Linked DNA regions of Homo sapiens: region 2 is linked to region 1. The links come from fine-mapping of genetic effects on gene expression. A gene starts in region 1. The other region holds a variant in brackets. All regions are shown on one strand. Distances are from middle to middle.

What was found. PIP is the estimated chance that this variant, and not a neighbour inherited with it, causes the effect.
Region 2: its variant is fine-mapped to the expression of SERPING1 in whole blood (TOPMed, PIP above 0.99).

The regions. Positions count from the first base shown.
Region 1 is chr11:57,596,251-57,599,156 of GRCh38, reverse strand. It overlaps SERPING1 (serpin family G member 1), which reads right to left and starts at 1,472. Exons shown (of 8, transcript NM_000062.3): 1 at 1,435-1,472; 2 at 836-908. The coding sequence starts at 886.
Region 2 is chr11:57,642,632-57,645,537 of GRCh38, reverse strand. It overlaps YPEL4 (yippee like 4), which reads left to right. Exons shown (of 5, transcript NM_145008.3): 5 at 1-451. The region is part of intron 1 of MIR130AHG (MIR130A host gene); the gene reads right to left. Among named protein-coding and RNA genes, the nearest start is that of MIR130A, 2.9 kb to the right of the region's middle. RefSeq lists an enhancer at 1,769-2,268. The variant G/C (reference allele first, on the strand shown) is at 1,286.

The DNA.
Region 1 (2,906 bases):
TCCAGCCCCAATGTCAACAGATCCTCCACTGAGAAACCACGCATTAGCTCCATTTCACAGGTAGAGAAACTCATACCGACACATATTAACTAGTCCAGGGTCTCACAGAAATGGGAGAAACAGCTAGGGGTCAAAACAAGGTCTCTGATTCCAAACTCCCTGCTCATAACTACATCATCTGCTGAGTATGTGATACCAACTTGCGCGTGCACACACACACACACGCACATACACACACCCCTACCTACCTTTCTCCTGGGATCCTGCACTTCTTAGCCTTATTTCTAGTCCATGACCTCCCAGACCACTGGGACCTCTCACTGCTATTGACCCCCACCCAGACCCACGTATGTTTGCTACCATTCTTCCCTGTCTTCACAGGCCCTAGCCTGGGACCACCGTCTGTGTCACAGCAGCCAAACCTCTCCTCCCCACAGCTCTTTTCTACAACAAACTCTTGCTTTGATATCACAAAATGCTTCCCATCTCCTTGCCCTATGTGATCCTCCTGCCAAGCCTGCTTGGTGGACAGGGTGGGATCTGTTTATTCAACATTTTATAAATCAGGAGGAGTAGGCTGAGAAAAGTGACGTCCTCAGGACCACGCTGCGCAGCTCCTACATGGCCCGCCAAGATTAGAACTTGCATCTGTCTGAGTCCTGAGCTCTTTCCACCATCTACGAGTGCGTGTGCAAGGATCACACTCAATGATCCCAAGAGGAGCTCTCCTCATTCCCCGGAGCCTGAAGGGTTAATCCTCAGCCACCGCCCGCACCCCGCACCATCCCGCCTCCCGTCTCCACCCCCGTCCCCCATCCCACAAGGGACCACATACCCCAGCCAGCAGCAGCAGCAGGAGGGTCAGCAGGGTCAGCCTGGAGGCCATCTGGGCGGCGACGTCAGCGGACCTGCGGAGCCAGCCAGCCTCGGAGCCAGCTCCCACCCTGGGAGCCCAGGGGCCCCCACCCCGCCCGGGGCCCGCCCCCATTCCGTCTCAGGCCCCAGTCCCTCTTAGCGAATTCCCTCCTCCTCCCTCCTGGGGCCACCTTCTCCCTGGCTCCTCCCTCTGTTTTGTTTTCCCCAAACCGCTTCCCTTTCCCGGCACCGGCTGGCCCTTCCTCTCCCCGTGGGCCCGGGTCTCTGTCCATCTGTTCAGTCGGAGGGGAGGTGGTGGGAGGGGGAGGGGGTCCTGCTTTAACCAAACAATGAGGCCAGAGGCGTGGGGGAGGGGAGGTCCTGGGGGGCTGAGCACAACAGGCCTGAGGCGGGAGGGGCTGGGGTAGGAGGAGGCAGAAGTCCCAGGTGGAAGCAAGCCTATAGAGACCCCCGAGATCAAGGCGGGCAGGAAGGCGGGGGTGAGGAGACCCCCTCCCTAGACCTCTTCACTCCATGCTTTCCACCCTACTCCCCACCCCTGCCCAGCACCAAACCTACTCCAAACTTCTGGTCACCAGGCAGCTCCAGTGCAGACTGAGTAGAGAGTCCCCCAGGGTCAGGGAGGGTGGGGTGCGGGGGGGGCAGTCTTAGCTATTGGCTGGCCCGGGACACTGCCCAGTTACAAATTAAGGAAGATTGATCGCTGGTGTGAGTTCCTGTAAATCAGGATGGGACGGAATGGGACTGACCGCTTGGTCTTCTTTGTGGGCCAGGCCAGGAATTTAGCCCAAATCCCCTGGTAGGTGGGGTGAACGGGGAAGCTTGGGTGCAGTTCTCAGCTTTACACAACCAAAGCTTCCCCCGCGTCTTCATGAGTAACAATAAAAACAGCATGTACACAAAATGTGCTCCGCAGTTTTTAAAGGAATGAACTTTTTGGAAATTGCTCACCTCCGTTATTCCTCAAAGTAACCCTTTGTGCCCCATTGTACCCATTTGATAGTTAAGATACTGAGCCTTAGAGCAGTGAAATGTCGGGCCCTGATCACCCTCATTTGGAGAAGTATTCTGAAGCCTAATCCCTGCTCCCATCTCCCCTGTGCCCTGTAGGTGTTCTGCCATTTTTGCTCGTAGAGACCCATAATCAGTAGTTCTTTGTATAACAGACAACGGATGTGAGGCACCCAGCTCAACAAGCATTCAACCTAATTAAAAAAAAAAAAAAAAAAAAAGCTAGCCGGGCACGGTGGCTCACGCCTGTAATCCCAGCACTTTGGGAGGCCGAGGTGGGTGGATCACTTGAGGTCAGGAGTTTGAGACCACTCTGGCCAATATGGGGAAACCCCGTTTCCGCTAAAAGTACAAAAATTAGCTGGGCAGTGCAGGCGCGCACATGTAGTCCCAGCTACTAGGGAGGCTGAGGCACAATCACTTGAATCTGGGAGGCAGAGGTTGCAGTGAGCTGAAATTGCACCACTGCACTCCAGCCTGGGTGACAGAGCAAGACTGTCTCAAAAAACAAATAACTAACTAAATAAATATTTAAAAACTTGAAAGCTGGGGTGTATGTGTTTGCGACTAGGGCTCCACAATAGACCTGGCTGGCTGTGTGAGCCAGCAAGTTGCTTTCCCCCTTGACGTCTGGCTGTCCTCGAAATCTGGCTGTCCTCGACATCTAGCTGTCCTCTCAGCATTGCCAGATAAAACACACGAAGTAGGCAGGCCTGGGGGTTCATACCTGTAATCCCAGCCTTTTAGGAGACTGAGGCAGGAGGATCCCTTGAGCCCAGGAGTTCAAGGCTGCAGTTAGCATTGATCATGCCACTGCACTCCAGCCTGGGCAACAGAGTAAGACACTTGCTGTCTCTAAAAAAAAAAAAAAAAACTTACATTGGGATATACTTATGGTAAAAATGCTTACATTGGAATATACTTATGGTAAAATAAATTTTGTTGTCATTGTTGTGTATCTGAAATTCAAATATAATTGGCATTTTGTATTTTTGCTAAATCTGATAACTCTGCCTCAT
Region 2 (2,906 bases), 46 kb before region 1:
AATTCTGGTCTCAGACACCAGGAGACCAGAGTCTCTGAGGATGAAGTTTCCTACCCCTATTTGTAGGGAAAAGGACTTGAGTGCAGGGAAAACTCAAATCCCAGGCCCTGGGAAATAGTAAAATAATCAAAGGGTTTTCCATTTCACTCCACTTGTTAGTTTATCTTGGCACTGAAGAGGCACTTTCGAGTATCTAACTTTTGCCATTGGGTGGGGTGGGGACAGCTGCTCGCGGAACAGCCCCTAGTCGGCTGCTTCCAGAGTAAGCAGTCTTTATGGGCTTTCTCTGAGGCCCAGTCACTGCTCCTGGGACCCAGTCCCCTGGAGGGGAGGTGGAAAATCAGTGCTACGGGGCCAGTCTTTCCCGTGGCTGCCACCAGCGAATGAAACTTTTGTATGATACATAAAGTGCTTGAGTCTATTTTTAATAAAAAGGGAAAAAGCAACTTGAGGCAACCTGTCCTCTGACTTTCTTTCCCTGTGCATGTACCCATAAACTGTCCCCGTCACACACACACACCCCCACCCACCCGGGCCTGTCCCTTTATACCACTAGGGGGCAGCAGTTGCCCTGTCTATGGCAAGACTACTGCTTGAGCTTTTACCGGGGAATAAGCGTTCAGGTGAAGTTTTGCCTTAGTAAGAGGGGTGGGTTTTGTTAGCTACTCGGCGAGAGCATCCAAAACCGCTTGTGTCTGCTGGCACCCCTGACAGTAAGTCCATTTTGCCTAGATCCAGGATCGGGCTCTGAAAGAGGCTCATCTCAGAATAAGGATTTTCTTGAGTCCCGTGGCTTTTCAGCCTGGTTCTGTAATGCTCTGGTCAGTTCATGGGCACACTTAAGGCTAAAAGGAAAATCAGTCAGCCAAAGTGCTGCTCTGGCAGTTGATGGGAAGTGAAACAAAATAGCTCAAAAATTAGGCCGGGCGCGATGGCTCACGCCTGCAGTTCCAGCACTTTGAGAGGCCGAGGCTGGTGGATCACCTGATGTCAGGAGTTTGAGACCAGCCTGACCAACATGGCAAAACCCCGTCTCTACTAAAAATTCAAAAATTAGCCAGGCATGATGGCACGTGCCTGTAATCCCAGCTACTTGGGAGGCTGAGGCAGGAGAATCACTTGAACCCAGGAGGCAGAGGTTGCAGTGAGCCAAGATCGTGCTGCTGCACTCCAGCCTGGCGACAGGGCAAGACTCCGTCTCAAAAAAAAAAAAAAAAAAAAAAAAAAAAAGCTCAAAATCGCAACATCAATGCCACCATATGACCCAAGGGACATTTTATTGGCA[G/C]TGGTATGAAATCCCTACTGTTGTTGGGTGCCCAACAGTTACAGGGGAGACCATATACATCATAAAGATCATTTTTTGGTAAGCTATAATATTCTTTCCAGATTCATTCATTAATATTCCAAATATTTATAAAGCATCTATTACTTGCCAGGCATTGTGTTAAGCACTAGATGTTAAGCACATGGTGAAGATAAGGCAGCTGTGACCTGACTTCCTGGAGCTTTCTGTCCAGTAGGAGATGCAATAACCAGGAAATCCCAGTAGAAGATGATAATAAGGGATCTAAGCAGGGACGTGGAGGAAGCTTGGGAGCTCATAGGAAAGGAACTCAGCTTAGATGTAAGGAGTCAAGGAAGGCTTCACAAAAGCGATGACTACGATGGCATTTGAAAGATAAGAAGTTAGGTAGGCAAAGGCAAAAGTGATGGAAGTATTTCAGACAGAGTATGTGTCAAGTAACTTAAGTTTAGTTAATTGAAGGAAATAAAAGTTGCTTGTGGGCTGAAAGCAGTGGCTCACGCCTTAATTCCAGCACTTTAGGAAGCCAAGGCTGGAGGCTTGCTTGAGGCCAAACTTTGAGGTTAGCCTGGGCAATATAGCAAGATCTTGTCTCAAAAAAAAAAAAGCCATACCTGCACCTGTAGTCTCGACTACTCAGGAGGCTGAGCAGGAGGATCACTTGAGCCCAGGAGGCTGAGGTTGCAGTGAGCCATGATCACGCCACTGCACTCCAGCCTGGGCTGGAGCAAAACTTTGTCTCCTTAAAAAGTGGGTGAGAGGACATGAAAGGAAAGAGAAGCAGGAGCCATAAACTATTTAGGGAATCTAGATTTAATCCCAATGGTATTAGGGAAATATGGGAAAATTATTGTTTTTTAGAGTGGAGTGGCAGTATCAAATGGCTATTTGTGCCCAGACAAGAGGCTCAAATAGAAGTTTTAATAGACTGGAGAAAGTAAGGAACATATGGTAGGGTGCGGTGGCTCACACCCGTAATCCCAGCACTTTGGGAGGCTGAGGTGGGCGATCACTTGAGGCCAAGAGTTTCAGACCAGCTTGGACAACAAAAATTAGCCAGGCATGGTGGTGCACGCCTGTAATCCCAGCTACTCAGGAGGTTGAGGCAGGAGAATCACTTGAACCTGGTAGGCAGAGGTTGCAGTGGGCCGAGATCGCGCCACTGCACTCCAGCCTGGGCGACAGTGAGATTCTGTCTTAAAAAAAAAAAAAAAAGGGAAATAAAGCTAACTGTACTATCTCAAATACTGTTGTTGTGATCAGAATGGAGAGGCTGTCTGGGCAGGAGAAAGGAGGACTAGAACTGGAAGGCACAGAAGTAAAAGGGCAAGGGAAAAAGGCAAGCCATGGAGAGATGTCCAACATCCCTCAACTAAGGCCTCAGGGGAGTCTGACCCATCTTTCAGTTTCTACATGCCTCATGATGCCAAGATCCCTCTCAGGGTCCAGCAGAGGACCTCAAAACCCTATTCCTCTTGGACCCATTTCTTGCACCAAAGTTTAGGGAAGATTTCTCAAGTCCCAAACTCTGCTGTTGAAAACCAGGCACAAACTAGCTGCCTTCTTCACTTGATCTTAGCCAAAAGACCAGGAATACTAGCTG